Regions from separate parts of the Homo sapiens genome. Here region 2 is linked to region 1. Evidence: fine-mapped expression QTL. A gene starts in region 1. The other region holds a variant in brackets. All regions are shown on one strand. Distances are between the middles of the regions.

Region 1 (12,495 bases):
CCAGTAAGTAATAAGATGGAAGCTGCAATAAAAAGTCTTTCATCAAAGAAAAGCCTGGAACCTGATGGCTTCACTGCTGAATTCTACCCAACATTTCAAGAATAACTAATTCTCACTTCTACTCAAACTCTTCCAAAACAAAACAAAACAAAAAATTAAAGAGGGAATACTTCCAAACTCATTCTACAAGGCCAGCATTACCTTGATATCAAAACCAAATAAGGACACAACAAAAAAGAAAACTACAGGCCAATATTACTGATGAATACAGATGCAAAAATTCTCAACAAAATACTAGCAAATCACATTAATAAGATCCTTCATCATGATCAAGTGGGATTCATCCAAGGGACGCAAGGATAGTTCAACATATTCAAATCAATAAACATGATACATCACATTAACAGAATCAAGAACCAAAAACATATGACCATTTCAATAGATGCTGAAAAAGTATTTGACAAATTCAACATCTCTTTATGATAAAAACCCTCAGCAAACTGGATACAGCAGGAACATGTTCCCAAATAATAAAGGCCACATGTGATAAAACCACAGCTAACATCACACTGAATGGTGAAATATTGAAAGCCTTTCCTCTAAGATCTGGAACAAGACAAGGATGCCCACCTTCACCACTGTTATCTAATATAATACTGAAAGCCCTGGTCACAGCAATCAGACAAGAGAAAGAAATAAAGGGCATCTAAATTGCAAAGGAAGGAGTCAAGTTATCTTTGTAGGCAACATAATCTTATATTTACAAAACCCCTAAAGACTCCACCAAAAGCTGTTAAGAACTGATAAACAAATTCAGTAAAGTGTCAGGATACAAAATTAACATACAAAAGTCAGTACAGACTTTTTTTTATTTAGATTGCTTTCTTGATTTATTTTTCATGTTGTTTGCTGTTAGAGCATAACATTTACAATAGTTACAAATAATATAAAATACGAAGCAATTATCTTAAGTGAAAGATCTGTAAAAGAAAACTATAAAACACTGATGAAGAAAATTGAAGACACAAATAAAAGGAAAGATATTCTAAGCTTGTGGAATTAGAAGAATATTGTTAAAACGACAATACTACCCAAAACAATTTTCAGATTCAATGCAATCTCTATCAAAATACCAGTGACATTCTTCACAGAAATAGAAAAAGAATCCTAAAACGTATATAGAACCACAAAAAGACTCTGAATAGCCAAAGCAGTCCTAGGGGAAAAGAACAAAGCTTGGGGCATCACACTATCTGACTTCAAAATATACTACAAAGCTATAGTAACCAAATGACCATAATACTGGCAAGAAAATAGACACATGGACAAATGGAACAGAATAGAGAACCCAGATATAAATCCACACATTTACAACCAAGTAATTTTTGACAAAGCAATCAAGAACACATCATGGTAAAAGGATAGTCTCTTCAATAAATGGTGCTGGGAAAACTGGATAACCACATGCAGAAGAATAAGACTATCTCTCAGATATTTCTTCCTTATCTCTTTGATTTTTGATACAAAAATCAAATCAAAATGGATTAGAAACTTAAATGTAAGATCTGAAATTATGAAACTACTAGAAAAATGTATTTGGGAAATACTCCAGGACATTGGCCTGGCCAAAAGTTGTTTTATTTTGTTTTTTTGTTTTTGGAGACAGGGTCTCACTCTGTTACCTGGCTTTGAATGCAGTGGTGTAATCACAGCTTTCTATACCCTTGACCTCCTGAGCTCAAGCAATCCTCCCACCTCAGGCTCCTGAGTAGCTGGGATCACAGGTGTGTGCTACCACATCCAGCTAATTTTATTTATTCATTTAACTTTATTTTTAAACTTTTAATGTTTTAAACTTTTTTCTTTAATTTTATTTTAATTTTTAAACTTTTAAAATTCTTTTTGCAAAAGTAGGGTCTCCCTATGTTGCCCAGACTGGTCTGAAACTCCTGGGGTCAAGCAATCCTCTGCCTCAGCCTCCCAAAGTGCTGGGATTATAGGCATGAGGCACAACTCTTGGCCTGGCCAAAAACTTTTCTGTGTAAGACCACAAAAGCACTGACAACCAAAGCAAACGTAGACAAATTAGATTATATCAAGCTAAAAAGCTTCTTCACAGCTGAGTGAACAATCAACAAAGTGAAGGGACAACCCACAGAACAGGAGAAAATGTCTGCAAACTATCCATCTGACAAGGGATTAGTAACCAGAATATATAAGGAGCTCAAACAACTCAATAAAAGAAAAATAATCTTATTTAAAAATGGGCAAAAGAATAGACATTTCTCAAAATAAGGCATACTAATGGCCAACAGGTAAATTAAAAAAATGTTCAACATCACTAATCATCATAGAAATGCAAATCAAAACCACAATGAGCTATCATCTTACCCCAGTCAAAATGGCTTAAAAAAAATTTTTTTTATTATACTAGAGACGAGGTCTCACTACGTTGCCCACGCTAGTTTTAAACTCCTGAGCAGCTCAAGTGATCCTCTCACCTCAGTCACCATGGGCGGCCTAAAATGGCTTTTATTAAAAAGATAGAGAATAATGGATGGTGGCAAGGATGTGGAGAAAGGGGAACCCTGCTACACTGTTGGTGGGAATGTAAATTAGTACAGTCACTATGGAATACAGTATGGAGGTTCCTCAGAAAACTTAAAATACAACTACTGTATGATCTAGCAATTCTACTACTACGTATATATCCAAAAGGGAAATCAATACATTGAAGAGATATCTGCACTCACACGTTTATTACAGCACTATTCACAATAGCTAAAATATGGAATCAACCATCAATGGATGAATGGATAAAGAAGATGTGGTCTATATACACAATGGAATTTAGCCATAAAAAAAGAATATTGGGCCTGGCATGTTGGCTCACATCAAATCTCAACACTTTGGGAGGCCAAGGCAGGAGGATTGCTTGAGGCCTCCCTATTTCAAGAATATATGGAATAAAAATTTGGGTTTGCTATGTTTTTATTTTTATTATAATTTCTAATAAAGTTGTTTTTCCACTATCCCTTTATTGCTGCTTCTCAGGACTATTCATAAAATGACCAAAAATACAAAAAATAAAATGATAGTAAATGACAATGACTATTTTTCCTGATAATACCAAAGGTTAAATCAATACGTTTTTCCTTTTAGTAGCAACACAAGACAAGGGGATAGTTGCAAGAGGCTCCAGAGATCATTTAAATTATTTATGCGTAATTGGAACATATATTTGCTAGTGTACACTAGCAAGAAAAGAGCTGTAAACTGGCTATATGTTACTGCACCTTAAAAATGCATGTGGATGAATTTTCTTTTAAGAAAACTGTTAAACTAAAGAAAAACTATGTAACACACCTAGAATGTAATCTATCTGGCTCTGACAGATTCTCAAATGTTTAATCATTTAAAAAATTTGGGATAATAGTTTTTTGGAATTTTTTTTTTTTTGAGACAGGGTCTCACTTTGTCACCTACACTGGAGTGCACTGGCATGATCACAGCTCACTACAGCCTCAAACCTCTGGGGTCAAGCTAGCCTGCCACCTCAGCACCCTGAGCAGCTAGGACTACAGATATGTGCCATTATGCCTGAGTGACTTTTCTAAAATCTAAAATCAATTCTATATGTATTAAAAGTTATGTATTGCAAGCGCCTAAGGTCCAAAGTCTGGACTAGACTATTCACTAGCGATGATCTGGGCAATTAACTTCTTTGAATGTTAATTTCCTCATATGTAAAGTAAGAATAATGTCTACCTTGCAGGATTTTTGTGAAGAGCGAATAAATCAAATGAACCTAAAACAATGTTTGACATTTTGTAGGCCTTTGGCAAATGATAATTGCTACTTACAAAAGGCTATGATGTTATTTGGTTCTTTGGTGTCTGACCAATTTTAATCATGTTAGTGATTTTTTTCTTGGGCCTTGTTAATTGCAGTTCCCACAACTTCTCTTCAATCATCAACCAAGTTAAACTTATTTCATTCATCAGTTATTATTTACTGAAAACCTCCTATGTCACACACAATTTTAAATATTTATTCACTCTCTACACATAATTATTGTCAGAATACCTAGACAGAAAAATGCTAGAAAACAATGAATCTACAGAAGAAGTGGTTTATATCTTACTTTTATAGCACCCCAGTCAGATTATCATATAGCAAGATCTTAATAAAGATCTTAAACAGGGATAAAGTATATTTTCATAAACTATCACCATAGCAACATGTTCTATAAAAATATATTTTTTCAACTTATTTGACTAAGAAGAAAAGGATGTGAAATTATAGTAGAAGTGAAACAATAAAAAGGTTAGAAAAAAACAGGAAGCAAAACACGTTTACTAAATAACTATCAAGAGGATTCTACTGATACCTAATATACCACCACACTGCTTTATATAGTATGCCTTTAAAATATTAATAAAAGAATTTCTCACAGTAACAGGAAGAGACTCAAAAGCTAAGCAAAATAAAAACGACAGAAAGAACATGTGTACATGCCAAGAGTGGGCACTAATACTGTTCATTGGTGTACCGTACTGTGTGCTTTTTAGACTAAAAGATTTTCCAATGTTATAGTGAAGCCTATGAAATACCAACTACTCTAACAAGTTTTTATCCCATAAACCAAACAGATAGGAGTAAAAGATATGGGAATACATTTTCAATTTCATTGAATAGTAAGAATATTTCTGCTTGAAACATTCCTAGCCTGGCTCTCATTTCTACAATAGGAAACAGGATAAAAAGGGTGGCCTACACACCCTTTGAAATTCCATTTCTGAAATCACTGTCTTATTCTCGAATGTTAGAACTTTTTATGAGATCTGACATATTCTCAAGCAGCTGTGAAGTGCATTAAGGTATCAATGAGTATCCCCATCTACCTCTTCCCTCCCACTTTTCCAAAAATACAGCTGTCTTTGGAGACTTAAATGGTAAAAATCAACAGATAAAGGAGTCCTAGACAGATATGCAAAGTCACCTTAAGGATCAAAGCTGCAGAATAAGACATGGCAGTATGAGCATAATATAATAATAATTGATATTAGTAAAAGAACTCATCAATATAAATGGAGTGTGGATGGTCAGAAAAAGAAGAAAGTAAAAGAAAGCAAGATAAATATTGGCAATGCCTACTTAAATATCCATTGCCACGATAGGGATAACCTAGCTTCATGCTACCAACCATTCAGAATCGTAATTAATCCCCCATGCAGGAAGAAAAAAATATGATACTGGGATATGGGAGAAGGTCATCAAGCCTAGATTTGAAACCAGGATATAAAGAGCTGGAGTTACAGGCACCTACCACCATGCTCGGCTAATCTTTGTATTTTTAGTAGAGACGGGGTTTTACCTTGTTGCCCAGGCTGGTCTCAAACTCCCGGCCTCAGGTGATCCACCCACCTCGGCCTCCCGAAGTGCTGGGATTACAGGCGTGAGCCACCACACTCGGCCAGCGTTTTCCCTTAGACTCGAAATTTCGCTCCTATCGTCCCATCCTTGTAGTAAGAAAGTACTCTTTCTAAGGTTTAATAACAAATTTTACTCTTGGCAATTACAAGGAAATCGACTATATTAAAATAGCTAACGAGAGGAAATTACTGAAGCTACAAAGTCAAAGTCTCATAATCAAAGTTATCCTTGACAACTGACAAGAGTTGTTAGATCTTCTATTGGTCTTTCTGCTAATTCAACCCTAGTCTTAAAACAAAAATAGCCTCCTATTGCCTAATCCCTTGTACACACAAAACCACTGCACTTCGGTATTTCTAATACGAGAAAGTTTCTATATATCCAACCTTTCCTATCTTTGAGGGGCAGGCATGGTTAACGTGGTTCTCAGTAAGATATTCATTTACAACCAAGAGAAAATCCCAGGCTATCATCTCACATTCTTGTTTTACTTTAAAAACCTTTCTAACGTCATTTATTCTCTGACAACCTCAAAATTACTTTCTACAAAGCAAACTCTAGAAATCTAAAAATGCGAAGTGCGTGCTTGTGAGAAGGTACTAAGGAAATTCTTCCTTTAAACGTCAAATGTGAATTCTAACTTCTAATGAGTAAGACCCTCGAGATTTACAGCGGTGGTCTGGTGGAAAGAAAACCCTTGGCACTAGTAGCTCACAAAACCCCAGCCCATGGTTGAGGCGGAAGCGGCCAGATGCTCCCGGGCTTTCGACAAGCCGCCCTGGAAAGCAGGCCCGTCATCTTCAGCGGAAAGCTCTCTCACGTCTGGGCCCGCAAGCCCGGAGGGTTCGTCATAAACACACAAGGCAAGGATAGAAGCGAGGCCGAGGGGCTGGTCACGCAACTGTCAAACGAAGCCCACCCACCGACTGACAAGGCCCCAAGGGGACAAGCGATCCCCGCGCGGGATACTCACCCGTTACCTCAGGATCGCGACTACAACTCCCAGGAGGCTGCGCGAGCGACGGACCAACGCCCTTCCCAGAATGCAGCACAGCTGCATCCCTACCCCGCCCTCTCCTTTCTCCGCTCCTCCTGCTTTTCTACCCGTCGTCACCCGGGAGAGCCGGAGGTAGGGTTCGGGAGGAGGATCCCGAAGGCTCGGCGTGTCGCGTCAGACGCCGGGAGGGGGACGGGGCGGGGAGTAGTGGGGGAGAATGGGAGGACGAAGGGGAGGGGAAAGGACAGGGGAGGGGAGGGTAAATAGTGGGCCAGGCAGGAAGATGGCGGCGGTAGCGGAGGTGTGAGTGGACGCGGGACTCAGCGGCCGGATTTTCTCTTCCCTTCTTTTCCCTTTTCCTTCCCTATTTGAAATTGGCATCGAGGGGGCTAAGTTCGGGTGGCAGCGCCGGGCGCAACGCAGGGGTCACGGCGACGGCGGCGGCGGCTGACGGCTGGAAGGGTAGGCTTCCTTCACCGCTCGTCCTCCTTCCTCGCTCCGCTCGGTGTCAGGCGCGGCGGCGGCGCGGCGGGCGGACTTCGTCCCTCCTCCTGCTCCCCCCCACACCGGAGCGGGCACTCTTCGCTTCGCCATCCCCCGACCCTTCACCCCGAGGACTGGGCGCCTCCTCCGGCGCAGCTGAGGGAGCGGGGGCCGGTCTCCTGCTCGGTTGTCGAGCCTCCATGTCGGATAATCAGAGCTGGAACTCGTCGGGCTCGGAGGAGGATCCAGAGACGGAGTCTGGGCCGCCTGTGGAGCGCTGCGGGGTCCTCAGTAAGGTGAGCAACCCCTGGTGCCAAGGGACCCCTGGCCAGACTCACCTGCAGCGAGGCAATCCGCTGAGGCGGTGGGGTGGGGCTGGCGGGAGGCGCGGAACGTGCCGGGGTGCGAGGCTGAGTGTTGCTGCAGCGACTAGGGATGAGGCGGGGATATAGGGGCACTGTCCTTGTTGCCCGGGGGCTCGTCGGGGGCAGCCGAGGACCAGGGAAAGGGTGTATAAACCTGAGATCCAGTTTGGGAGGCCAGATGCGCGCCGTGACTTGGGACTTAGGGCGGCAGCTGTCCCGGGTGTAAGGAATCCGGGTTGGGCTTCAGCGGTGTCCGAACGACTGGGCATGGGAGCGGTTCAAGTCGGACCTCTTAAAAGAGGTTGGTCTCTCTGAGGATGCCAAGCCGAGTAGGTTGGGGGGCACTGCGGACGCAACTCTTTCGACAGAAGCTGGAGCGACTCAGCTTGGTGTTGAAATTTGAGGTGTTGAATTCTGCTAGGTTAGATGTAGTGAGACAGATGAATGTGGAGGACTTTCTCCCTCACCCTGTACCTTAGTTCAGAATAGAGATATTGAATCGGCACATGATGGGTACAGGAAATATTCATAGTAACTTGGAACATGTGAGAATGGAGACTGATCTTTAGTCCAGGAAGAGCATTACTTAATAATAAAATATTTTTGCGGTAAGGGGTCGAGGGTAAGGAAAAGATGTTTTATCTTTTATATATTTTTTAAAATCCCTGTATCAAAATTTTAGCAAAGCAGTCATTATAGGACTGCAGGTGGATGATCTCTTGATATTACATAGTTGTGGGGATTTTTTTTTTAAGTTTTTGCTGTAAGAAGATTCACGTAGCCTTTTTGACTTCTCTCTCCCTTCCTGTTAAACTTTTTTAGACATGGCTGGAGCTAGCAGTTAACTTGGAGAGGGGGAGCTGGGCCAGTCCCTCAACAAGCTGGTCATAAGATACTATGTCATGTGCAGCCAGTGGCTATTAAGAAATCACCCTGTTTCCAGTATTCATATTTGGCAAATCACTTGGACATTATTTGTGGAATTGTTTCATATTAGGCTTTTATAATGTCTAGAAAGCTAATGAGAAGGGGGCCAGGAAAGGCATGAGTAGTCAGAACTAAGGATTGCAAGTGTTGACTTTTATTTGTATAGCAGCAAAATTATGTTGTATATTGATGCTGTGATCATTCTTGAAATTTCAGTGCAAGGTTTTCAGTAACGAGAAGCTCCTCAGGATTTCTTTAGATTAAATGTATCCTGTAATTTAGGAATCTCTATTGAACACATTGTGTAGTAGGTATACATTTTCAGTTGGTAATAGGAAGTGGGTTACTTGCTTCTCAGTGATTTTGGTAGTTTCATCACTGCTCATAAGATGGGAAGCTGACTGCCATATTAGTATTGTGATGTGTTAAGTATTTTACGAAACAAATTGTACTTTTGACCTACTGATAATTACTTTTTTGGGGGTTGGGGGAGTGGAGTGACCGGGGGAAAAAGTAACCAGTGCTCTGGAGTAGGTATACTATAGATAAAAAAATGGAAGACCAATCTCGATATTTAAATGCATACAAATGTATTTGATCACCTCTATGGAAGGTGAATAGCTTAAATTTTGACTGTTGCTGCATATGTAGAATGAATAGGAATAAAGCTTTTGGTATTCTTGCTCAAAGCTATGAAGGAAATTTTCCTGAGATTTACCAATTTATGGTTATATACAGTTTTCTGGAAGCTTTTTAATCAAGGGTATTCTAAATTGAGTATATATACTCATACTGAGTATGGTAGATGTTTTTAAATGTAAATTATATAGTTTGAATTCTTTGTATTCACCTGGTAATTTAAACAAAGGTCAGAACTCGGATTTTGTTCTTTTCCTTCCATTGAGTAATGTAAATAAGTCCCGGTACAATTCATTTTGTTTCTCCCCCAAAATGGGGTGGATTTGGAATGGGCTTGGGTAAATTTATATTAGAAATATACCAGTTCAAAGGGTATTTTCCATATGGTAATCTGAAATACATGGAAATACCTATGAAGCATATTTCTTATAAATCACTTAAGTGTATAGATTCCAAAAATACTAGATAGACAATAATTCTATCTAGTTATAGCAAGTATCGTGATGGATCATGGTGGGGAAAAGATGCATGCCTTAGTAGGACTTGAGAGCACCTAAGCCTGGATAAAATAATCTCATTCAATTTCTGAATTTCCTCCATCCTTCATGGTTTACCTTCTGTTTTTCCACACACCAAACTGTTTGAAATTCTGTCCATCCTTAAGAGTCCAAGCCAAATACTGTCCTTTCCATAAAGCCTTTTCTTATTTTGCCATCATTCAAGACCTCCTTCACTTGAATTCCCATAGCATTTTGTTTGTAGCTTGCTTCTGACTCTTATTCTAAATATATATTTTTTTCTCTTGAGTTTGTGTCTGCTGGCCTGTTGGCCACAGTAATATTTGATTCCCCTGCAGTGTCTAGCATATTGCCTTATCTGTATTTGTTAAATGGGGAAGAGTGAGGGAACATTATGAGAGCAGAGAAAAGACAAAAAACTTGTCTTCCAGGTGTCATGATACAGCTAATACTTACTGAGTAAAGGGTCCTGAAGCTGATACAGTTTGTTCAGTCTCTTATAAGAACTAATATTAAGTTATGGATACATAATTGCTGGGGCTTCTCCTCTAACATTGAAAGAGTTCTATTCTAGTGAGAAATGCTGAAGGTTAAGCTTCATTAGCTATGTATAACTCTTCCTCAGATTCAGAAAATACTATGTCCAGGCACTGTTCTAAGTCTATTCTTGTTTAAACTTAACTCTAAGAGAATTTGACAAAGAAAAAAAGAACACAAAGAGAATAAGTAACTTGACCACTGTCACAAAGTTTAGCCTTATGAAGTGTGGTAATTGTAAATGAGGTAGGATTAATCCATGAAGGGTCTTGAATGCCCTAAACAATTTGTATGACAGTCAGTGGGAAGTTGTCCATGTAAGTTTTGGAGCTAGAGACTCAATACGATCAATGTAAGAAAAGTAGGCAAATATGCTTAGTAAGTAAATAAGCTTGTGTAAATTATGAAAAAAACAGAAGATACTAGAGAAAAAATTATTAAGTCTCCTAAGGAATACAGGAACTGGATAATTTGATTGGAATAGTTGAAAATGAGAAGAGGAGGCAAATTTAAGGGTTTACTATGAAGGAAAGATGAGCAGCTTTTGGTAATGGGCTATAAATATTGAGAAGGAACACTTAGGTATTGAGTATCTTCTGTGACTATGCTAGGCATTTTCATTATTTTATTCGGCCGTCAGTCAACAGGCAAAGAAACTGAAGTTTACAAAAGTAACTTGTCAAAACTCTCTTCACATGAGTTATAAAATAGTTGAGCCTATTTTATCCTATATCCACTAATCTGTTTGTATATCTAATACACTAACTCTGAGCAGAAGTAGCAGTCTCCCCAAGGAAGTAGGAAAATAGGAAGGAAGTATACTTTATAGGAAGGTGAATTCAGTTTTATTGGTAACTATCATTTATTTCAAGCCCGTGTCTAAGTGGTGGTACATCTCAAGCAGTTAGAAATAAGGAAATGGTGATTGGGAGCCACTAGAATGAGTTAAATGTTGGCTTGGGTGAGTTCTCAGAGAGTGGTTGTAATGATGGGGCTTAGAAAAATTAAGAACTGGCTAGGGATGGTGGCTCACCTGTAGTCCCAGCACTTTGGGAGACCAAGGAAGACAGATCGCTTGAGCCCAGGAGTTTGAGACGAGCCTTGGCACCATAGCGAAACCTCATTTCTACAAAAAATTAGCCAGATGTGGGGGTGCACACCTGTAGTCTCAATCACTTGGGAGGCTGAGGTGGGAGGATTGAGCCCAGGAGATTGCGGTAAACTGAGATGGTGCCACTGCACTCCATCCTGGGTGACAGAGCGAGACCCTGTCTCAAGAAAATACTAAATAAAAGAAAATTTAAGAAGTGAATCAATCTCAAAAATGCTTAATTAGAGAACAGAAAAATAAAAGATTTCTCAGTGGATATAGAGCCTGAGCCAATGCAGTATATTTTGGCAATCCATTTTTAATTAGTTTTTGGAATTGGCAGATAGTTTTTGAGATTTTTCTATACTTAACACCCCAGAGCATAGATAAAAACATGCAAAAATAAGTATTCCTGTAAAGGTTACATTTCTGCCTTTTCCAGTTTATTGTGATCTTCACTTTGCAGCAAGACTTTAGCAACACAGAAACTCTTAAGGTATTGAAGACAATCCAATATGTTTTTGAAAAGCAATTTTATTTTTGTTTTATTACTCTTGAGTTTGAAAAATGCATGTTCAGAGGAACTTGGAAAATGTATTGGCCATTTTTAATATTATTCAGTTCTGTAGAGGAAAAGTTAAAGTTGATGCCAGCTTACTAAAGATTATTATTTTTATTTTGATATAGTTACAGCTGTTATAAATTTTCATATAGGAATAACAACAAAAGTAGAGTTTAGCAATAATTGACTTTATACTTCCGTTGATTTAGAAGGCTTCATGCAGTCTTTGGTGTCAGAATGAGAGACTACATACATAACTGAACATACTTCTCTGTTGAATATGTTAATTATGACAAGGACCAAAACAAATATCATGAAGGTACTTAGGAGAGGATGAAAGCATACGAAGAATAAACAATAATTTTAACCAAAATCTGGCTTTCGTTTTATTCTTCAAATGTTAGAAGAAAATGTTATATTTTATTTCTTACAGATTTATTTATAATATTGTAAAAATTACTGAAAATCATTATGCAATCTAGAAAATCTCAACTTTTCACTTTTTGTAATCATTTTACTGTTTATGCTTAGAATTAAGTTGGACTTTTCACGTTTTGGTTTTAAAATTAGATTGCTGTTTCACAAAGTTTGGATTTCTAAAATACTTCTATTTTTTGTTTTCTTCTCTCTTCCCTTCCCCTTCCCACTCCCAGTGGACAAACTACATTCATGGGTGGCAGGATCGTTGGGTAGTTTTGAAAAATAATGCTCTGAGTTACTACAAATCTGAAGATGAAACAGAGTATGGCTGCAGAGGATCCATCTGTCTTAGCAAGGCTGTCATCACAGTAAGTTCCTTTTCTTCTTCATTCAACAAATATTTATTGAGTGTCAGCTACATACCAGGAACTGTTCTACGTGTTCAGGATACATCCGTGGATAAGATAAAGATCCTTGTCCTTGTAGAATATACATTCTAATACTTTTTTCCATAAAGTGAT
Region 2 (12,495 bases), 790 kb before region 1:
AGCAAGATAGAAAACTTTTAGATAATAACCTCTCTCCTCAGACCAAACACCAGGAAAAAATTGTAGCTCAACTGCCAGCTACATCAGCAAAGGTCTGGTGGTAGCCTAGACTTCCACCCTTGTGAAACTAAGAAGACCTGTCAACACTACCATTGGGATGCCATCAGAGAAGGGTAAGTAAGGAGCTGGGACTTTCATCCCTGCTGGGTGGTAATGAGCTCCTCCTTCCCTCCCTCCCATGGTATCCATGATCAGGAAGGGAGTGTGGACTCCCAGCAGTAATGAGAATGCCCACTCTTGGGTGTCACTGGAGCTTAAGTGGAGTACCTGGACTTCTACGTCCACCTGGTAATAATAAGGCAATGCCTCCCTTTCGCTTGCCAGAGAGGAGTCACAGAAAGCCAATTCAAGCAAAAGGCTTAAATAAGATCCAAATTCTCATAACATAATATGTAAATGACTGCTTCCAATCAGAAACTGTTTGTCATACAAATAAACAGGAAGATTTCAAACAGAATGAAAAAAGACAATCAATAGATGGCAACACTGATATGACAGAGATGTTAGAATTATCTGATGAATATTTTAAAGCAGCCATAATAAGGCTTCAATGAGCAACTATGAACACACTTGAAACACATGAAATTTAGAAAGCATCACGGCAAAAATGGAAAAAATAGAAAGCCCTAGCAAAGAAGTAGAAGAAATAAAGAAGAACTAAATGAAAATTTTAGAACTGAAAAATATGATAACCAAAATAAAAAGCTTAGTGGTTGGGCTCAACAGCAGAATGGAGGAGACAGAGGAAAGAACCAGTGAACTGGAAGACAGAACAATGGAAACTATCTAAAGTGAAGAACAGAGAAAACAAACTAAATCAGGGACCTGCGGAACTATAACAAAAGATCTAATATTTATGTTGCTGGAGTTCAGGCAGAAGAGAAAAAGGGCAGCACTGAAAAAGTATTCAAATAGTTAAATTTTACGGGAGGCCATTGTTTTGGGCTAGTCTCCTGCACCTAGGCCACAGCAGACCAGTCCTAAGCAGAATGGAGTCACTCAGGCTAAGTGCCACCTAATCAAATTGAACTTTGAAAAGAGCCAGTTTTCCAAAAAACAGGTGATTCCGGCCAACCCAAATGAGCATAATAAGGAAGTCCCCTCTGTTTTAGCCCTTTACAGAAAGGGACTTTGAAAGGGCTATCTGCTTTTTGTTCTCTGTATCTGCTCTCTTTAGAGCTTTTCTGCCTATGAAGCCAACTTTCTCTGCTCAGCTCATTAGAGCACTCACCCCATTTTATAGAGTGAGGTGTTGCCTGCTTCTAGAATAGCAGATAAAAGTCAACTAGCTCTTTACACTAAATTTGTTGTAATTTTGTTTTTTGACAAAATAAATAATGGCTGAAAACCTCATAAATTTGGCAAAAGCTGTAAACCTACAGATTCAAGAAGCTGAGCAAACCCCAAACATAGTAAACCCAAAGAAATCCATGGCAGGCAAAGAAAAAACCTGAAAAGCAACCAGAGGAATCAATAGTTTATTCCTATTGGGAAAAAATACTTAAGACTGTAGATCATCCCCCTCTACAAATGTGGTATCTGTTTTCAGAATTCCCACAACAGACTCAGCAGTAACCCCTCACTTGCCCCAGAGAACACTGGATCTTATCTATCTTTTAAATATTGTCTTCTCTGAATAATAGGAGAAAGCTAAATGTCATAATTGCTTTAATTTGTAATTAATTTTTACTATTAGTGAAGCTGAGCATTTTTATATGCTAAGTGTTTGTTGACATTTCTTTATGAATTTCCAATTTATATATTCAGGTTATTAATTCATTTCTGTTTCAACCCCCTCCTGCCCTCAATTTATCATTTATATGTGCCTATGGTATTTTTTGCTGTGTGGAATTCACATTTTGTTTTACCCAGAGAATTCTTTTAACCTTCTCCCTGATGGTTTCTGGTTTTGAGGTCATGCTTATAACTAGCAGCTAAGGTTTTAGGGAATGTAGATTTGTTTTTGATTTGCTGTCCAGGGGTACAGTTTCCCACCTTTTGCATAGCTAAATCCTCTGGATAATAAATTGCACTTTAGTAATAATCTCCAGCCTTAAATATAAGGTATAAGTAAAGAATAAGTATTTGGTCTTCATCCCCAGTTCCCGGCATTGAGCTCCTAAAACCCTTGGATAAGAGTATCTTTTGGAGCCTGGCACAATGGGTCATACCTATAATACCAGCTACTTCAGAGGCTGGGGCAGAAGAATTGCTTGAGGCCAGGAGTTTGAGACCAGCCTGGGCAACACAGTGAGACCCCATCTCTTAAAATAAAAAAAAATAAAATAAATTAGCCTGGCATGGTGATACACATCTGTAGTTCCAGCTACTTTGTAAGCTGATGGGGGAGGATCACTTGAGCGCAGGAGTTTGAGGCTGTAGTGAGCTATGATTGAATCACTGCATTCCAGCTCTGGTTACAGATTGTAGCTCTGGGCAACAGAGGGAGACCCCATCCTTCCCCCTGCTCCACCAAAAGAGTGTCTTTTGTAGGCTAATGAGATGACTCTTGGCTGAGGGGATCCTAGATAGCTTCTGGATTGGGCTGGTCTCCAGAAAAACCAACCATATGTCCAGAGGGTTGGAATGTTCAGTCCCCTCCCACCTCTTTTTGTGTCCCTTAAATCATCATGTCCCAGTCAGTGTGTAAGTGCTCTCTAATCTGGGGAAAAAGCTAGAATGTCACCATGCATCTGTTTAAGACTGCAATTGTTATGCTCATTTTTGATACTGAGGTTTTGAAGAAAGGAGGATGTTGATGGCATTTACAGAATGGAAAAATGGTTGTTTCATTTTTTTTGGCACAGAAAAGTGCTATTCAGTAAGTACATCTAGATTTAATTCCAAAATTTCCTGCCTCTTTATCAAACGATCTAGGTAGGATAACTTATAAAAGACACAAAATTAATAAAATGGGCATAAGAGGGGGCAAATCAAGATAAGGAAGAGTGAAACAAGTATCTGGACTATGCAGATTTAGCAGAGACACAGGCTCTCTGCTTCCTGATTGCACAACAGAGAAGGAAATGTGAAGAATTACACAATTTTTATCATATGAAGTGAGGACACATAACAGCTTCTCAAAGCATGGGTGGAGGAATACAAAATGATTCCTAGAACCCACCCCTGAGATGTTCAGTCTTCATGGTAGACTCTGAGTAGAAGAAGATGTGTCCTATAATGAACAACGTCCTCATTAGTGTTTTCACAGTAAATGCAAATGTAATCCTAATAGAGATTGGATGTGTGCCCCACCCAAATCTCATGTTAGAATGTAATCCCCAGTGTCAGAGATGGGGCCTGGTGGGAGATGATTGAATTATGGGGGCAGATTTCTCATGAATGGTTTAGCACTGTGCCCTTGGTACTGTCCTCGCAATGGTGAGTGAGTTCCTGTGAGCTATGGTTGTTTGAAAGTGTGTGGCACCTCCCCTTGAGCTCTCTTGCTCCTGCTCTTTACATGTGATGTGCCTGCTCCCCCTTTACCTTCTGCCATGATTGGAAGCTTCCTGAGGCCTCCCCAGAAGCAGATGCCACTATGCTTCCTATGCTTCCTGTATAGTCTGCAGAACCATGAGCCAATTAAACCTCTTTTCTTATAAATTACCCAGTCTCAGGTATTTCTTTATAGGAATGCAAGAACAAACCAATACAAATCCCAGTATTAAGAGAGGGGGGCCTTTAGGAGATGATTAGGTCATGAGGGCTTCTCCCTGGTGAATGGGATTAAGGCCCTCATAAAAGAGGCTTCACACAGTGTTTGGCCCTTCCTGCCCTTCTGCCTTCCACCATGTGAGGACACAGTGTTCGTCTCCTCTGAAGGACTCAGCAACATCTGGAAGCAGACAGTAGCTCTCACCCAAGACACCAAACCTGCCTTGATCTTGAACTTGCCAGCCTCCAGAACTGTGAGAAAATGAATTTCTCTTCTTTATAAATTACTTAGTCTCAGGTACTTTGTTAGAGCAACACAAGAGAATGAAGTAAAGCCTCTAGCCAGAATTTTTGTGTTCTATTCCTGTATTCTTGTATTCTATCCTGCCTCCATGGGGAGATGAAGCTATAGAGTGTCTCAACTGGTTGGGATTTTCCTCTAATAGCTGAGTTAGAGATCAGTGGAGACCTCCTAATGCAACCCAGAGAAACATGGAAATGGTGGAAGAGGTTTTAGCCTGAAATATTTTCAGATACTCACTAATTAGCTCATACTAGCGAATTTACCATGGCCATGGTCACGCTGCTCTGGAGCACAAGTCATCTTCTAGATCACCAAAGGAAATGACTTCCTGTGATTATCTGATGACATCTACTTAAGTGCTGGAGAGCGTCTGCCAGCAACAGCGTGACCGCGGTGAGAATGCACCTGGCAGACCTTTGTGTTATCGTGCTGGTGTGCACAGAGGTGTTTTCCCACATGCTGCTCCCAGACAATGACTGGACCTGACAGGACTATTACTGCAGGCTGCTTCCTGAGTCACACAGGACTCCTCTGAGGCTGATGTTGTCATGATCCCTGGGTCTCCAACAGCCTTGCCAAACCTTCCTTAGATTACTGGATAGTCTGGGAGATTCCACCCAAATACTCCTTCCTCCCTCCTTCGCTCAGGCTTAGAGTTGCATTGCAGCTCTCCCATACTTCACTCCCTCTCCATCTTCTCTCACAGTCATTTCCTCTAATAACATTTTTGCATGTTTAATCCCATCCTGACATCTGCTTCATGGAGGACCTGAATTAATACAAATAAGCAACATTTGTTTTTATTTCAATTGATATTTAACCTTTCTGACAACAGAAACACCGTAGGTCTGTACTTCTCACAGGAAGGACCTGACCAATTTCAATTTATGAGGGTCTTTTTTTTTTAAGCCAGATTTTTGTCCTAGGTGAATACTCATCCTTCTATTCCTTATGGCAGAGGGATAAGCAGCTGATTCTCCTAAAACAGTATCACACTCTTATAGTATACAAGAAAAAGGAAGGAGGCTATGACCTAGCCTTGCTTTAACATTGAGGAGGTTATTTTATTTTATTATTTATTTTTTGAGACAGGTTCTCTCTGCTGCTCAGGCTGGAGTGCAGTGGCACAATGGGCTCAAGCAATTGAGGGGTTCATTTTAAACGTATAGTGTAATCCACATCTAAGCTCTGTTTGCAGAATGAGAGGTTGATGAAAGAAAGCTCAATGAAGCTGCAGAGTCTTAATCTTGCTTTTGGCCGCACCAACTCTGGCAGGACCTCGTTCACAAAGACAGAGAATTAACATTTGTTGAATGAATGAAGGAGATGCCGTACAAAGATTGTATGGTTCCTTTCAGAGCCTAAATATTTAATAGGTGGGTCACTGAGGGTCTGAACTAGAATATTTGATAAGCAGACATCCAGGGTTGAGTGTTAGATGTTCTGCAGGGAGATGGATGGAGGGGTACCTACAGGGTTCTGCAAGCTCAGTAATAGATGTTGTTGAAGAAGAAATATAAGTTAGAGACAGGACAGGACACACACAGAATACACCTCTTTGGGGTCAATAAAAAAAGGGAATGAGCCCAGAGGAAGCACTCAAGATCAGTTGCAAATTGATATCCCAAATGTTTTGGCATAGTTCTAGGAAAAAACTCTCCTACATTTCAAAGTCCAGATAATACTGACTCCACCCTCTGGCACAGAGGACTTCTATGGCAACATAGCACAGGAGTGGTACATGAAGGCAAAGTCCATTTGTCTTAGCTCATATCAAATGGTAAAGCAGAGCTTCTTTTATTTTAATTTAGCTATTCAAGCTGCTGAAGCTATACCCAAAAGCCCTAGCCCTTTCTCTGATATGAGTCTCTGTGTTTCCATATTGGGAGCAATTTTTTTTTTTTTTTTTTTTTTTTGAGATGGAGTCTCACTCTTGTTGTCCAGACTGGAGTGCAGTGGCATGATCTTGGCTAACTGCAACCTCCGCCTCCCAGGTTCAAGCCATTCTCGTGCCTTAGCCTCCTGAGTAGCTGGGATTACAGGCACCCGCCGCCATGCCTGGCTAGGTTTTTTTTTGTATTTTTAGTAGAGACGGGGTTTCACCATGTTGGCCAGGCTGGTCTCAAACTCCTGACCTCAGGTGATCTGCCCGCCTCGGCCTCCCAAATTGCTGGGATTACAGGCATGTCCCACTAGGCCCAGCACAATTGTTTTTTATAACTAGAAATGTGTTTGGCTTTCCTCCAACAAACCAGGAAGGTCAAGAGATATGTTCTAGATACCTCTTTGTGGTTGCTTAATGCAGAGCTCATGCAGACACATCTGCAAACCTAAGGAAACGACCCTCTAAGGACTGGTTAGCCACTTAAAATGTGGGCTAAGATAGGCTATTAAACTCTAATCCTCACTGCTTCATTACAGCTTCCTCATATTGTTAGCCTACAAACTAAGTTAAGGACACACTTAAATTCCTTCACTGGCTTCATTGCCCTATTAATTCCTTCTAGCACATATGTTCCCCTATATTTTCTTTTTAAAAGATATGAGTGGAACCTACAACTTTGTGAAGCCAGATATTTTTGGATTTTTACTTTCCTGGGGAAGTGACAGTTTGGCTTTTTTTTTTTTTTTTTTTTTTGAGATGGTGTCTCACTCTGTTGCCCAGGCTGGAGTGCAGTGGTGTGATCTTGGCTCACCACAACCTCTGCCTCCTGGGTTCAAGTGATTCTCCTGCCTCAGCCTCCTGAGTAACTGGGATTACAGGCACCTGGCACCACACCCGGCTAATTTTTGTATTTTAAGTAGAGACGAGGTTTCACCATATTGGCCAGGCTGGTCTCGAACTCCTGACCACAGGTGATCCACCCACCTTGGCCT[T/C]CCAAAGTACTGGGATTACAGGCATAAGCTACCGTGCCCAGCCAGTTTGGGTTGTTTTAAAATAATTTTTCAGTGGTCTCACAGGGCTTAGAGTGCCTCTTACTAGAGGCCCATTTCAACATACCTCCGGTCTGTGGGGTACAGTTCCACAGTGACCACGTCAAGAGAGTTCCAGGCTGAGATGGTCAATCCATTGTACAGACACAGCATGCCTATCATCATGGATTCACTGGTGCCGAACCAAAGGAAGAAACAGCTGATCCCCGAAAGCACCATAGAGCCACCTGCCAACAATGCAGACAAAAGGCTGGAATGTTTCCTGTCATCTTAGTAAAGCAAGAACCCTTGGGTCCTTGGGATTGCTCAAGAAAACTGAATTCTAAGTGGAAGCTGCAGGATGGGCTCCATAAAGCTCAAGAACTGGTGCATTCACCTGAATGAAAGGCTCTAACTGCCTCTGAACACAGAAAGTATGAAATGCATATCATCTTTTACTCAGCTACTTGAGTGGGAAAATATACATTTTACACATAGTTTTTCAGTCTGTTAACTCATGGAAACCACTCAAATGAAATGTAATTAGACATAATTTTCACTATAATTTAGTCCCAACGTAAGGTCTAAAGGATTTCTCCTTATTGGATGCAAATCCCTAATAGATGGGAGTACAGGGGGAAACAGGGTCCCTCTGGATTGCAGGGGCAGCTCTTTTATTTGACATGAAACTGAGTACATACCTAGCATTGTTAAGCGCCCAATTCTGTCCATCAGCAGAGCAGACACAATGTTCCCTGGCAATACTGCCAATGTCCCCAGAAAGTTGACAAAATAAATCCAGTAGGCACTATAGTCATCATCAAAGGTAATCTGACATCCCGTCTTGTTGTGAAAAAACGAGCAGTTTTTAAATTCACTGTCAATGAATTTATATGGCTCAAAATCTGTAGAAACAACAACAAAGACAATTCATCAAGCTCTTACCAGGCATGCACCAGTATAAGAAAGCCTATGGAGGATTCGGAGAGGAAACCAGTATTGTAAATTCCTTGAGGGCTTTCAGGCCTATGCTAGCTTGACTTTTTGGGTCTTCTGGCCAAAGCATAGGATCTAGTCTGGGTCTTCACATCATAAAGTAGGTGAATGATGAGATACCTTTGCTGAATAAAGGAATACATTAAATTAAGGGGTCCAGTTATCTTCTGATTTCCTATGGTCGGCCATTGCTAATTATATTACTTGCTTACTCCTTTACAATATTACTATGTCCTAATTATCATGTTACATAAAGACTATCATTATAGTACTAATAGTGTCCATACTACAATTATAAAAACAATTTGTTTCAAAATGTGCATGGGCTGGGTGTGGTGCCTCATGCCTGTAATCCCAGTGCTTTGGGAGGATGAGGCAGGAGGATTGCTTGAGCCAGGAGTTCAAGACTAGCTTGGACAACATAGTGAGACACCATCTCTACAAAAATAATAATAATAATAATAATAATAATAATAATAATTTTTTATTTGAGGCCGCAGTGAGCTGTGATTGCGCCACTGTACTCCAGCCTGGATGACAGAGCAAGACCCTGTCTCTAAGGAAAAAAAAGTGCAAGAGTCAGCCTTATCATTGCCATTTTATGAGACTAGAGGGCACAGAGAAGGAACAAGTCTTTCCTGAGGCTGAATTTATAATTTAAAGTCTATGTGCATGAATCTACTGAGGAACAAGAGTCAGCCTCATCTGAAGGTCACCAGCATTCATTGCTAATCTTTTCTTGAATTTGAAACCATCCAAGAAGAGTTGCAGATGGTGGTGGTTTCTGCTAAAAGGCTGTGAGAATTGAAACTATCTTCCTTGCTGATCAAGATCTGACAAAATGTTCGTCTTCTGAGGTTTAATGGGTTAGAAGACAGGTAGATAGCATTGCTCAAAAAACAAAAAACAGAAAGACACCTGACCTCATTCTTCTTTGGAGCTAGGCAGAGCCCTTGTCTGAGCACTAAGAAGGCAGGTCTGGCAACAGGGCAAATGCTGATGCTCCTGCCAATGCCACGCTGTTATGCTGGATTCATTTTATAGGACACACAGACCAATGTTTGGGAGTGGGAAAGTGGAAGGCACAGGCTTTGAAATCAAATAAATCTGGGTTCAAACATCTGTTATTACTAGTTCTATAATTGTGGACAAATTACTTAACTTTCCTAAGCCTCAGCTACTGTGAAAACTAAATGAGATAATGAATGTCTAATGACCTAGAGTAGAAAACAGTATATAGGTGTTCAATCAATGCTTGTTTGCCTTCCTTTTTTTTCCCCCTGGGGAGTTTAAAATACCCCATTATATGGATTTGGCCAAAATATATATGTATCTGAGCATAGCCACATGTTGTCTATCTCTGTTGGCTATAGAGTTGAGGCATTTAAACAAACACCAGATTTTGAACCCAGGATTATCAAAACAAATAAACTACAGGTTAGGTCTTTGCTTTAAAAATTTATTCATCAAAGGATTTTTTTGTTGTTGTTGTTGCCAACTTTTGAACTTTGGCAAGCTCCATTTGCACTAAATCTGACAAAGACAAACAATACAAGCCAACCTTTGATCCAACCTGATTTAGAGAACTTGTTCCATTTATTCTTTAATATCCACTTCCCGCATAAGCCTCTGCCCACATTATCACATGGTTATCACAGTGGGCCCTTTGGAGAGGCCTCAGGTAGAGGCAGTACTAAGTAGCACACCTACCTGTGTTGTCAAAAACAGTGTCAATAAATGTGCAGTTCTTGAAGTAGGTGTTCACTGAAGTTACATCCTCAAAGGTGCAGGACTTAAAAACAGAGTCTTTGAAAGTTACAGATTTGAACTTGACCCCTATGAATCTGCCCAACACACAGAAAAATTCATATCAATCAATGACTGTGTCCATCAAAGTTCAAAGCTAAGTCAAATAGTTTTAGAGATGGAATGCCCCACTATGGACTGTCTTAATTATAAAGAACACAGAGTTCTTGATTTTCTTAGCTCTCTGCTTTTTCCCCTTTTTCTCATCCAGGCTGACCTTTGGCTATCTTATTGCTTACCAATATTATTTTTCACCAGGAAAAGAGATGACACTCCTAACTTCCCTTAGCTTTTTGTAATGTTGGTAAAAAGTTTTGTGGGGTATGCAACTGAAGATAGTTTGGGGATTACCTGGGGCTATTCTTTAGGTTTTAATCCTATCGTCTCTTCATGTATATCTTTATTTGAATATTCTCTATTTGGGGTTAATGGCTCTAACTTAAGGATGTCCTCCTACCCGATCTTTTAATAACTTTATTTTTCCCTAGCTGAAAATCCAAGTCTTCTTCATTCTAGTGTAGGGACCTGTAATTATCCTGAAGAGAGAGCATGAGAATTCTGTTTCATTTATGTGAGGAATAACTGACTTGGGGTTGAAGAAACTCATAGGTGACGCTCATTTCCAGGATAATTTTTCTTCTCACAGCCAACAGATAGTCCTTGAACCAAAAGGAATTATGAGAACTCTGCTTATTTTTGGAAACATGAAGAATGATGAAACCTGTTCAGGTATATTTTTGGGTATTATAAGGGGGAATTCTACGTGGTAAAAATGGTAACAGTCATAATGATAATAACATCTTAGAAGAGTCCATGATCCAGGCCTTATCAGCATTGATAAGGACTCCCAGCAGACACAGATAAATATTCATTAACGTGTCCTGGTACTTTATTAAGAGACTATGAATGTACACTTAGCCAGTCACTGAGAGGAAAATGCTTGTTCTCCTCGGGAAGGAGTTGTTATGTCAATACCACTCTTATTAGGGGCAGAAAGGGACTGATCCTTCTAGGTAAGTAGGTTGATTTAAAAGCAGTTTACTAACTATTGAGTACTTTCAAATTTATTCTCTCCCTAATACCCAATTACGTGTGTTGGTTCAAAATGCACATGGCCTCACAGACCAATCAGCTTAAAAAAGAAATCATTCCCATGGTACATTACCTGGAAATAATAATAATGATCTCGTTTCAATCCCCACTCCAGGGACCCAGAGTAAAAACATCTAAATGCACCAAAAGAGACTAAATAATGGCACATCTTTAAAAAGTTATCAATTTTTTCTGTCATGGAACTGAATTTGGAAAAGGGAATGAATCAGTTTTATTTTTTGAATGGATAATTCAGAGAGTACACATGGTGCACAATTCGAAAGGTTGAAAATGGAAAAAGTCAGTCTTTTCCCATCCATCCCCAGGCCACAAGTTCCTCTGCCCAGAATAACCATTGTTGTCAGTTTCTTGTGTGCTCCTCCAGGAGCATTCTGTGTCTAAAGTACACCTGCTTTATCTCCTTCTAGTCTACCTTGGAGGTTATTCCGTATCAGTATATAAAGAGTTGCCATTTTATGATGCTGAATAAAAAAGCTATTTTTTAAAAAATTTCGTTAATGGTATTTCAAATTTTCCTGAAGGACAAAAAAATTGTTTCTATCATCTTTTAAAATAAATGTGTAACATATGTTTTACAAAAACTGTAATACTATTAAAATTAGTAATCATTATATTGCTAATGTAAAAAAGTTCTAAGCAGTGACTGAGTATCCAGTTTAGAACTTTAACATATATTACTAAAAATATGACTGTCAGAGACACAAACATATATTAGAAATTTCTAATGGAGTAACAATACTTTTGAAAGTCAGTTTTCACCCTGGCATCACAGAGGACTTGACACTAAGCTTTCTGTGAAATGCTAAGTGCAGATTCAAGTCAGTATTTTATGTGGGAGAGTGAAGGTGATCCCACTTGGCTTGGATGATGATTAGTTCCTTCATTGAATTGCTAATTTGAACAATTACCTCCTAGTTAGTAACCCTCTTTTCCATTACATAGATCATAAGCATCCCACTGAATTCTTTTTCATCTTTCTGAACTGGTTTTTGCCCTGGGGAACTTTGATTATTTTAGAGTTTTATTTTATCACTTTTGAAATTGGGACAACTTCCTAAGAATGATGTAAACTATCATGAACTTACACTGGCAATTATTTGTTCAGGCAACAAAAATACTTGGATATAAACAAGTACTTGGTCTACTCTTTTCCATCTCTAAAAGAATGACCCAGGACCACCTCCCTGAGTCAGTTCTCTCTTGTCATCAAGAAGTATTTCAGATCCCATAAAGGAGACCCTTCCGTCTTTCAAAGCCCTTTACTTTGGGGAATGATTCCTGTTCTCTAATTGAAACTCTTCCTGATGCAATTTAACCTCAATTCTGGATTCAGCGTATTGGGAAGGATGAATTCTGAAAAGTGGCTCTGTTTCTCAGGAATAGAAGACTCATATAATCACATTTCAGATTTCTTCTGTGAATTAAATAATCCTATAGCCTGTCTTATTTTCCCATACTCTTCACTCTTCTCTTCCTTCCATTATTTTTGTTGCTCTCCAACATTGCTCTAAATTTTCCTTCCACACCAGTCAAGTCCACTACCTAATAAATATGAAGCAACTTAGCTGCAAAAATAGTTTTAAGTGAAGTAATGGATACATTTGTACCTTTTATTTAAAGCCTATTAAGAAGTATTGAAATTCATCATG

Evidence for each region.
Region 2: its variant is fine-mapped to the expression of POLK in vagina (GTEx, PIP 0.93).

What each region holds. Positions count from the first base shown.
Region 1 is chr5:75,505,829-75,518,323 of GRCh38, reverse strand. POLK (DNA polymerase kappa) reads right to left here and starts at 6,433. Exons shown (of 15, transcript NM_016218.6): 1 at 6,410-6,433. CERT1 (ceramide transporter 1) reads left to right here and starts at 6,695. Exons shown (of 17, transcript NM_001379029.1): 1 at 6,695-7,212; 2 at 12,208-12,342. The coding sequence starts at 7,117. RefSeq lists enhancers at 6,139-6,518, 7,269-7,338.
Region 2 is chr5:76,296,070-76,308,564 of GRCh38, reverse strand. It overlaps SV2C (synaptic vesicle glycoprotein 2C), which reads right to left. Exons shown (of 13, transcript NM_014979.4): 10 at 9,638-9,771; 11 at 7,633-7,836; 12 at 7,020-7,179. It overlaps SV2C-AS2 (SV2C antisense RNA 2), which reads left to right. Exons shown (of 4, transcript XR_001742750.2): 2 at 10,380-10,462. Among named protein-coding and RNA genes, the nearest start is that of SV2C-AS2, 9.3 kb to the left of the region's middle. RefSeq lists enhancers at 11,489-12,371, 12,351-12,495. The variant T/C (reference allele first, on the strand shown) is at 6,896.